Linked DNA regions of Homo sapiens. The protein of the gene in region 3 purifies or fractionates together with the protein of the main gene of each other region. This does not show direct contact. Each region holds a gene or a part of one and is shown on either strand. Other genes may lie near its edges.

Region 1 (3,654 bases), on a different chromosome or scaffold from region 3:
GAGAGGCCATTTCCAACCACCCTATTTAAAATACTATTCTAGGCCAGGCGCGGTAGCTCACGCCTGTAATCCCACTACTTTCGGAGACCAAGGTGGGTGGATCACTGAGATCAGGAGTTTGAGACCAGCCTGGCCAACATGGTGAAATCCCATCTCTACTAAAAATACAAAATTTGCCAGGCGTGGTAGTGTGTGCCTGTAGTCTCAGTTACTCGGGAGGCTGAGGCAGGAGAATCACTTGAACCCAGGAAGCGGAGGTTGCAGTGAGCCGAGATGGCGCCACCGCACTCCAGCCTTGGTGACAAAGTAAGACTCTGTCTCAAAAAAACAAACAAAACACTGTTCTATTTTTTTCTTCTTGTGCTGTCTTGCACTGTGTCTTATATATTTCTGTTTACCTGTCACTTTTACCCCCAGGAATGTGATGTCTAAGAGGATGAATTTTAGCTGTTTTGCTCATGGCTGTCTATTCACAGGCTAGAAGGTATTGTTCTGGTACATGGCAGGTATCTAATTATTTGTTATCCTGATAAATAAATTAATGGATGAGGGGAACTTCAGTGTCTCCAGGAATCATGGAGATAGATAGCTAATAAGTGATACACAAACTAGAGTGAATGAGAGCTATTGCAGAACATGTTTCTGTCTTTTGATGGCTGCCTATCTAATTAGAACTTTCTTAGGATTCCTTGTTGGGATACTATTTTTAGGTATGTGCAGTTCACCTACATCCCATGGAAACTTCTAAGTGTTCTTTTTATGGCCACACTGAGTATTATGCCTTCTCTCTGACTTGTCTTGGAGCTTTATGTTTTTATTTTTATTTTTTAAAAATTTTCCACAAGTTATTGGGGTATAGGTGATATTTGGTTACATAAGTTCTTTAGCGACTTGTGAGAATTTGGTGCGCTCATCACCCGAGCAGTATATGCTGCACCATATTTGTAGTCTTTTGTCTCTCGCCCTCCTCCCACTCTTTCCCGCAAGTCCCCAAAGTCCATTTCTCTCTTTTTTTTTTTTAAGCAGAGTCTCGCTCTGTTGCCCAGGCTGGAGTGCAGTGGTGCCATCTCGGCTCACTGCAGGCTCCGCCTCCCAGGTTCACGCCATTCTCCTGCCTCAGCCTCTCAAGTAGCTGGGACTACAGGCGCCCGCCACGATGCCCTGCTAATTTTTTTTATATTTTTAGTAGATACGGGTTTTACCGTGTTAGCCAGGATGGTCTCGATCTCCTGACCTCGTGATCCACCCGCCTCGGCCTCCCAAAGTGCTGGGATTACAGGCCATTGTCTCATTCTTATGCCTTTGCATCCTCGTAGGTTAGCTCCCACATATCAGTGAGAATATATGATGTTTGGTTTTCCATTCCTGAGTTACTTCACTTAGAATAATAGTCTCCAGTCTCATCCAGGTTGCTGCAAATGCTATTAATTCATTCCTTTTTATGGCTGAGTAGTATTCCATTGTATATAATACCACAGTTTTCTTTATTCACTCGTTGATTGATGGGCATTTGTGTTGGTTCCACGATTTTGCAATTTTGAATTGTGCTGCTGTAAACATGCATGTGCAAGTATCTTTTTCGTGTAATGACTTCTTTTCCTCTGGATAGATACCCAGTAGTGGGATTGCTGGATCAAATGGTAGTTCTACTTTTAGTTCTTTAAGGAATTTCCACATTGTTTTCCATAGTGGCTGTACTAGTTTACATTCCCACCAGCAGTGCAGAAGTGTTCCCTGAACAACACATCCATGCCAACATCTACTGTTTTTTTGATTTTTGATTATGGTCATTCTTGCAGGAGTAAGGTGGTATCGCATTGTGGTTTTGATTTGCATTTCCCTGATCATTAGTGATTTTGAGCTTTTTAAAATATGTTTGTTGGCCATCTATATCTTCTTTTGAAAATTGTCTATTCATGTTCTTAGCCCACTTTTTGATGGGGTTGTTTGGTTTTTTTCTTACTGATTTGTTTGAGTTTGTTGTAGATTCTGGATATTAGTCCTTTGTCAGATGTACAGATTGTAAAGATATTCTCCCACTCTGTGGGTTGTCTGTTTATTCTGGTGACTGTTCCTTTTGCTGTGCAAAAGCTCTTTAGTTTAATTAGGTCCCAATTATTTATCTTTGTTTTTATTGCATTTGTTTTTGGGTTCTTGATCATGAAATCCTTGCCTAAGCCAATGTCTAGAAGGATTTTTCCAATGTTACCTTCTAGAATTTTTATAGTTTCAGGTCTTAGATTTGAGTCCTTAATCTATCTTGAATTGATTTTTGTATAAGGTGAGGGATGAAGATCCAGTTTCATTCTCCTACATGTGGCTAGCCAATTATCCCAGCATCATTTGTTGAAAAGGGTGTCCTTTCCCCCACTTTATGTTTTTGTTTGCTTTGTCGAAGATCAATTGGCTGTAAGGATTTGGGTTTATTTCTGGGTTCTCTATTCTGTTCCTTTGGTCTATGTGCCTATTTTTATACCAGTACCATGCTGTTTTGGTGACTATGGTCTTATAGTATAGTTTGAAATCAGTTAGTGTGATGCCTCCAGATTTGTTCTTTTTGCTTTAGTCTTGCTTTGGCTCTGCGAGCTCTTTTTTGGTTCCGTATGAATTTTAGCATTTTTTTTCTAATTCTATGAAGAATGATGGTGATGTTTTGATAGGGATTGCATTTAATTTGTAGATTGCTTTTAGCAGTATGGTCATTTTCACAATATTGATTGCACCCATCCATGAGCATGAGATGTGTTTCCATTTGTTTGTGTCATGTATGATTTCTTTCAGCAGCATTCTGTAGTTTTCCTTGTAGAGGTCTTTTGACTCCTTGGTTAGGTGTATTCCTGAGTATTTGATTTTTTTTGCAACTATTATAATAGGGGTTGGGTTCTTGATTTGATTCTCTGCTTGGTTGCTGGTGGTGTGTAGAAGAGCTACTGATTTGTGTACATTAATCTTGTATCCAGAAACTTTGCTGAATTCTTTTATCAGTTCCAGGAGCTTTCTGGAGGAGTCTTTAGGATTTTCAATGTAGATGATCATATCATTAGCGAACAGTGACAGTTTGACTTCCTCTTTACCGATTTGGGTGCCCCTTATTTCTTTCTCTTGTCTGATTGCTCTGGCTAGGACTTCCAGTACTATGTTGAGGAGTGGTGAGAGCAGATGTTCTTGTCTTGTTCCAGTTCTCAGAGGGAATGCTTTCAACTTTTCCCTATTCAGTGTTATGTTTGCTGTGGGTTTGTCATAGATGGCTTTTATTACATTGAGGTATGTCCCTTGTATGCCGATTTTGTGAGTTTTAATCATAAAGCGTTGCTGGATTTTGTCAGATGCTTTTTCTACATCTATTGAGATGATCAAGTGATTTTCATTTTTAATTCTGTTTATGTGGTGTATCACATTTATTGACTTGGGTATGTTAAACCATCCCTGCATCCCTGGCATGAAACCCATTTGATCATGATGGATTATCTTTTTGATATGTTGTTGGATTAAGTTACCTAGTATTTTGTTAAGGATTTTAGCATCAATGTTCATCAAGGATATCGGTCTGTAGTTTTCTTTTTTGATTATGTTCTTTCCTGGTTTTGGTATTAGGGTGATGCTGGTTTCCTAGGATGAATTAGGAAGGGTTCCTTCTTTCTCTATCTTGTGAAA
Region 2 (3,654 bases), on a different chromosome or scaffold from region 3:
ACTTGGTACAAACCCTAAACGTCCAAAAAAAGAGAAATGGTCAAGTAAATAGAGGCATATGTAAAAAATTATGCAGAGGGATAAATGAATAAATGATGAATGAATGAATGTGCTATTGTTTATTCATATTACACAATAGCATATATATATGTTAGATCTACATAGGTACACGTTTAGATAAAACAGGCAAGCTGCAAATATATATAATTATGCAAGTTTTTAAAACAATTCTAACATGAGTTAATATTTGGAAAAAGTTACAAAATATATATGAGAATAATACCCTCCAAAATTGGTGACCAGGTACCAGAAGAAAGGGGGTAGGTAGTCAGGGGGTTAGACTTTAGTTGGTATTATTTATTCATGCACATAATTGTATTTATCTTTCTCTAAAAGAGAACTGAAGCAAAATGTAAAAAATGTTAAATCTAGATCATTAATAAGATGGTTATCTATTTTATAATTTTTGGTACTTTTCAGGTTATTTAAAGACACTATTAAGACAGTAAAGATGGATACGCTAATTACCCTGATTTGATAATTACACATTGTATACATGTATCAAAATATCACTCTGTATGCAATAAATATGTACAATTATTATATGTCATCTAAAAATAAAAGTGGTGGAAAAAGGGCAAAACAAGGAGTAGACGATACTTGCAACACTAATATCTGACAGAGAATTAATATCCAGAACATACAAAGAATTTTTTCAATGACTAAAAGGCACATGACCTAATAGAAAAATAAGCAAAAGATTTGAGTAGGCATTTCATAAAGAAGATATCCACATATCCAATAACTACACAGATAAGTACTAAACCAGAGTTGTCATTAGGGGAACACAAACTAAAACCACATTCTACTCCACAAGAATGGCTACAATGAAAAAGACAGAATTCCAAACATTAGCAAAAAAGAAAAAAAACACCAATAACATTGCTGGTGGGAGTATAAACTCGTATTAAATACTTTGGAAAGAGGTTTGGCAGTACCTACAAAAGCTAAATATACATACACCTTAGTGTTCAGAGCAGCACTCTTTTTTATTTTTTAACTTTTATTTTGGGTTTGGGGTACAAGAGAAGGTTTGTTACATAGGTAAACACGTGTCATGGTGGTTTATTGCACATGTTATTTCATCACCCAGGTATTAAGTCCAGTTATCTTTCAGTTAGTTATCTTTTCTACTCTTCTCCCTCTTCCCACCCTCCCCACTCAAGTAGATCCCAGTGTCCGCTGTTGCCTTCTTTGTGTTCATAAGTTCTTATCATTTAGCTCCCACTTGTAAGTAAGAGCATGTAGTATTTGGTTTTCTCTTCTTGCATTACTTTGCTAAGGATAATATCCTCCAGCTCCATCCATGGTCCCGCAAAAAAGATCTCATTCTTTTTTATGGCTGCATAGTATCCCATTGTGTGTTTAAAACAGGAAAAGTATAGCAGTCAAATTACTGAGCAGAGGAAAATGAAAGAACTGGATTCAAAAAAAAAATTTTCATCGTTATAAAAATGTTTAAACATACAGAAAAACTGAATACCCATATACATAGTGTCTAGACTCAACAACTGTTAACATTTTGCTCAAACTGCTTTTATCTGTATCTGTATGCATATGTTAAAATTTATTAATTTGCATAAAGTAAAATTCTTCTTGCCTTTTCTAAAGTATCAGATAAATGGAGTCATTCAATACATAATTTTTTAAATCTGGCTTCTTGCATTAAGAACAATGCATGTGAGTTGCATCCAAGCATGTATCAATTAAGAACCACACTGTAACTGATACAAAGGTAATCTTTAATTCAAAAGGCTTTATTATTATTAGGTAGATCTTTTTGATCAGTTAATAAAGAGATAAAGTTGGTCTGCCACAATGGTTTACTCCTGTAATCTCAACATGCTGAGAAGCTAAGATGGGAGGATTACTTAAGGCCAAGAGTTTGAGAGCAACCTTGGCAACATACTGAGATCCCATCTCTACAAATAAATGAAAAAATCAGCCAGGCGTGGTGGTGGCATGTGCCTGCAGTCCCAGCTACTCAGGAGGCTGAGTGAGCAGGAGGATCACTTGAGCCCAGAAGGTGAAGGTTACAGTGAGCTATGACAGTGCCACTGCCCTCCAGCCTGGGTGACTGGCTGGCTCACTTAAATGTAATTTTTTATACACCTCAGATATACGATCAATGAGGAAACAAGAAGACACTTTTATATTATTTTTCATCCTAAGGGCAGAAAACCATATTTTTAGCATGGTATGACCCAAGTAAGGAAATTATTTAAAGCATTAATTATACTGTTTGCATTCTGTGGCTCTTTAAAACAATGAGGTACATTCCCTCTTTTAGAGAAATAAGTTACCACATAATACAGTCACTGTTACACAAGTAATAGAATATAATTTTATTCCTACCTGATCATCATCTTCTACAACCACCAAGGTTAATTTATTCTTCTTAAAATCCAATCTGGTTATCTTCGGCCTATAATATAATAAGAGAATAAAAGCCAAATTACAAACAAATGTTCTCTAAATATGAAAAAAATTGTTTTTATTTCAAATACATTTAACCATCTAACTCCTGAACTAAAAATTGACAGGACGGTAAACGTAACTTGCAATGCCCATCAAAAGACAGGAAACAGAAAAACACAGTACATATTTCAAAAGCAAATCTCAGACAAAATTGAGGTTGCACATATCAGACATTAAAAATGTTAAGGAAAATGAAATCTATGTATTTGATAGGTCTCGATTATGGTGTAAGAGATTCTTTAGGTCTAGGGAAAATTGTTCCAGTGTTAAAGCAGAGCAGCAGCATAGGAACTAGACATAGGAACGACCATAAAGCTTAAAAAAAACAGCCATAAAGAAAAACACTGACGATGGTTTTCAACTCTTTTTGTTTGTTTGAGATAGGTTCTCCCTCCATTACACAGGGTGGACTGCAGTAGTGTGTTCACAGCTCACTGCAGCCGTGAACTTCCAGGCTCCAGTAATCCTCCTGCCTCAGCCTTACTCCCACACCACACCAGGCTAATTTTTGTATTCTTTGTAGAGACGGCATCTCGCTACGTTGCCCAGGCTGGTCTCAAATTCCTGGGCTCAAGTGATCCGCATACCCTGGTCTCCCAAAGTGTTGGAATTCAGACGTGAGCCACTGCAACCAGCCTCAACTCTGTTTTCAACAGGAATTTTGGGTAGAGGAAATACTTCTTAATTTTTTTAACCTCGCTTTATGGCCCGCTTTCCAACTGTATCTCCCTACTTGTAAATTCCAAACCACCTACCACACATTTGAACTCTGTATTTCCATAAATTGTGAATGTCGAAACAATGTGACACTCCGATTGACTAATCTTTAAATATAACATATAAAATAGATGTAAAACATAACTTTACAAGAGCTTTACTAAAACAATAATGAAGAAATAATAGCAGGAAAAAGAAAGGAAACAGAATCTCACTCTGTCACAAAGGCTGGAGTGCAGTGGCGTGATCTTGGCTCACTACAACCTCCACCTCCCAGGTTCAAGCAATTCTCCTGCCTCAGCCTCCAGAGTAGCTGGGATTACAGGTGCGTGCCACCATGCTATGCCTGGCTAATCTTAGTATTTTTAGTAGAGACAGGTTTTCACCATGTTGGCCAGG
Region 3 (3,654 bases):
TCTTACCCTGGGGAAGGTGTGGATTAGAGGTGTGTGGCAGGGAGAGGGGCCTGGAACACGAGGCCAAAAGACTGTTACCAAAAACTGAGCCCCACAGGGCCCACTCTGCCCTAGGAGCCCAAGGCCCAAGGAAGCTGAGAAGAGAAGGCTTTTGTTTTCTGTTTTGTTGTTGTTGTTGTTGTTGTTGTTTTTTAATTATTAGATGGGAGGGCCCAAAGAATACCCAGGAGTCTTACCCCTATTGGACCATTGGCTCATTCTTGAGTCTACACTTTCCCCTCCCTCATATACTGAGAAAAATATCACCTTTTCTTTATAACAGCGGTTGAGGAGAGTGCCAGGAAACTAAAGGTATTGAGGGGAATTCAAATTCTGTACCCACCCCCACCCTGCCTCGTTTTGTCAGCTGGAAAATGTGCTGGGTGAGACCCTTCCCTTTCTGAGGCTACCCACTCCCTGCATGACCTCCTCCAGCCCCATACCTGCTGTTGTCCCAGCACTGCCCCTGCCTCTCAACCCCACCCTGGGAGCTCCTCCCAGAGCCCCTCTGGCTTACTTACCAGTGTGACTGCGCTTGTGCACCATGAGCACGTTGGGTCCAATACAGACCATGCCGCAGACGTCACACTTGAGCTTGCCATTGGGCAGCCGGATGCCCCCAGGGGAGTGAGGCTCTGGCCCACTCCCATCACAGTAGCCCAGGGGCTCAGACAATGAATCTTCCACAATCACGCTGTCGTCCTTTTCCAGGAGCCGCTCATCTGGCCCCAGCAGTCTGCTTGACTCCTCATCGCTGTACATCTCCACCTTGATGGAGTTGGCTGAGGGGTGGGATGGTGTTTAGAATAGAGAGAGGCAAAGGGGGAAGCTGCTCCCAGGCCAGAATGGCACTCTTTTTTTTTTTTTTTTTTTGAGATGGAATTTCGCTCTTGTTGCCCAGGCTGGAGTGCAGTGGCACGAATTTGGCTCGACGCAACCTCCACCTCCCAGATTCAAGTGATTCTCCTGCCTCAGCCTCCTGAGTAGCTGGGATTACAGGCATGTACCATCACACCCAGCTAATTTGGTATTTTTAGAACAGACAGGGTTTCTCCATGTTGGTCAGGATGGTCTCGAACTTCCAACCTCAGGTGATCTGCCTGCCTTGGCCTCCCAAAGTGCTGGGATTACAGGTGTGAGCCACTGCGCCTGGCCCAGAATGGCACTCTTAAAGTTTAAGAGGGTGTCTTTAGGCCCTGAGACATTCAAGCCTTAAATGGAACTAACACCCTAGTATCCCTGCTGCTGATATCAGAATCCTACTGGAACCTGAGACAACCTTTTCTCCCACCCACCAGGCAAATAGGCTTCAAGAGAAAAAAGTTGGGCCGGGTGTGGTGGCTCACGCCTGTAATCCCAGCAATTTGGGAGGCCAAGGCGGGTGGATTCTTTTGAGGTCAGGAGTTTGAGACCAGCCTGGCCAACATGGTGAAACCCTGTCTTTACTAAAAATACAAAAATTAGCTGGGCATGGTGGTGTACGCCTGTAATCCCAGCTACTTCGGAGGCTGAGGCAGGAGAATCGCTTGAACTTGGGAGGCGGAGGTTGCAGTGAGCTGAGATCACGCCACTGCAGTCCAGCCTGGGCGACAGAGCAAGACTCCATCTCAAAAAGAAAAAAGTTGGGGGTACATAGGATGTCTTCTGTCGCTGAGGAGAGGAGGCGACTAAGGGGAGCTTTTTTCTCTACTCTCTTGTCATGAAGAAAGATGTCTGGCTTGGCCCTGGGCAGGAAGCCAGCAAGTTAACAGTGGCGGGAAAACAGATCTAGGAAGACTGAAGGGGGACAACAGGCCAAAGAGAGCAAACCTGGAAGACAGACATGCTTACAGTTCCCTCCCACCTCATTAGATTGAATCCCTCTACCCCCTCCACCTCCATAAAACTCTGAGGCAGGGCAGGAGGGGTAAAGGAAGGAGGAACCATTGAGGAGAAGGCTTTGGCTCTAGCTCCGACCTACATTCCTGGCTACTCCAACCATTTAGAGAATGTCACAGATCTAGGGCCAGCTGGGGAGAGGCAGTCATGGGGACCCTGTCTGGGTAGGAGAATGAGCTGTGGGGAGATGGGGAGGTCCTTCTACTCTCTATTTCCTATCTAACTCCATCTGATGACCATTTCTATCTACCTGCTTCTCTAATTCCATAATTTCTCTTTGAAACTTTTACCTTAATCCCACCCATACCTCTTTTAATTCCACCCTAGTCTGCCAGTGACTGACTATTCACTCTCCTTTCAGAAGCCAGAAAAACCCTAGACACTGGGCTCCTCATTGCTCTTAGAGACTAAGCAGGAGACCAGCAGGAGGTGACGATGGGGAAATGGTTGCCAGTGGAAGGTGAATTGAAGGCCAAATGCAACAGGGGGTGCCTACTGCCAGGAGGTGGTAGGAGGTTACACTTACCACTGAGTGAGCGGCTAGGAGAAGAGTGCTGGCTGTTGGGGGTGCTCACCGAGGGCCCCACTGGGGCCCCGAGGAACTCCTTCTCCAGAGATGAGTCCCCGCTACCTTGGAGGAGAGAACAAGAGGGCAGGTAAAGCTGGAGCTGGAGATATCTACTGTCCATTGCCTAATCTTTTAAAAAAATTCAGTTAAATTTCACAAACATTTCCTTCATAGCCATGTACAAAGCAGTGTTGTATGCTGGGCACCATACCTTGTGCCCCCGCCAGTCTGGATGCCTGGTGCTGCCTTCTGTGAGCTCAGTGGCTGGGCCTTGCCTACCCTACCTTTATCTAGGCCTGAGGGCAAGAGCATCACTGCCTGACGTCCACAGGAAGCAGGGCTGAGGCTGGGTGCGCCAGGGCGGAGAGGAAAATGGGGGCTGCAGAAGGGACAGATGTTCAGGACAGACATTCTTCCCTACTGTTCCTCTCTGGAGCCCCCAGCCGGTTCAGGATCTGCAGGAAAGGTAACTGGAATTGTCCTTGAATCTAATGATAATATTAGTAATCATCATAGCAGCTAATAATATTAATTGAGTACTTACTATGTGCCAGGCTTTATTCTGTGCACTTGAAATGAATAATTTCATTTAATCCTCACAACAACTATATGAAGTAGGTGCTAATATCATGATTTTTTCAGATGAGGCAACTGAGGTACAAAAGAGGTTATGTTAGTTGTCTAAGGTTACATAGCTGCTAGTGTGGAACTGGGATCATAGACAGTAAGCGTCCATGTCCTTAACCAGCACCTACACAGCCAATTGGTGGTCACAATCTTAGTAGGGAAGAATTGGGCCTCTTAGACTTTCTAAATTCAGCAAAAATTTGATTACTCTAGAAAGTCTCCTACTGATCTGATTCCAATCACGTGTTTACTATTTGATATTCATTGACAGTTAAGTGATCAACTTATTCTCAGTATATTTGTTTTAATTTTCTGATAAATTGCTTTGTAAAAATGCTTTTTGAGGCTTTCATAATGTTTTTCAAAATCAGATAACATACCTAAAGGAAGATATGAATGTCTTTTTTAAAAAAATCCCTCCTCCCCACAATCTTCTACACAAATATATAGGTGAAATAAAAATACATGTAGATAAACACACACAGAGACACAACACATATGTAGATACATATAAAGAGAACATACCTATTGGGATAAACATA

The links.
Region 1: the proteins of IKZF4 (region 3) and ZNF225 purify together in Homo sapiens (affinity purification with mass spectrometry; one large-scale study listed by BioGRID and IntAct). This does not show direct contact.
Region 2: the proteins of IKZF4 (region 3) and EPB41L5 purify together in Homo sapiens (affinity purification with mass spectrometry; one large-scale study listed by BioGRID and IntAct). This does not show direct contact.

Annotation. Positions count from the first base shown.
Region 1 is NC_000019.10:44,119,896-44,123,549, forward strand, and holds part of ZNF225 (zinc finger protein 225), read left to right. Parts: intron 1-3,654. UniProt on the Homo sapiens protein: May be involved in transcriptional regulation.
Region 2 is NC_000002.12:120,086,002-120,089,655, reverse strand, and holds part of EPB41L5 (band 4.1-like protein 5), read right to left. Parts: intron 2,486-3,654; coding exon 2,416-2,485; intron 1-2,415. UniProt on the Homo sapiens protein: Plays a role in the formation and organization of tight junctions during the establishment of polarity in epithelial cells.
Region 3 is NC_000012.12:56,023,948-56,027,601, reverse strand, and holds part of IKZF4 (zinc finger protein Eos), read right to left. Parts: exon of another isoform or gene 2,607-3,654; coding exon of another isoform or gene 2,549-2,606; coding exon 2,444-2,548; intron 822-2,443; coding exon 561-821; intron 1-560. UniProt on the Homo sapiens protein: DNA-binding protein that binds to the 5'GGGAATRCC-3' Ikaros-binding sequence. Transcriptional repressor. Interacts with SPI1 and MITF to repress transcription of the CTSK and ACP5 promoters via recruitment of corepressors SIN3A and CTBP2.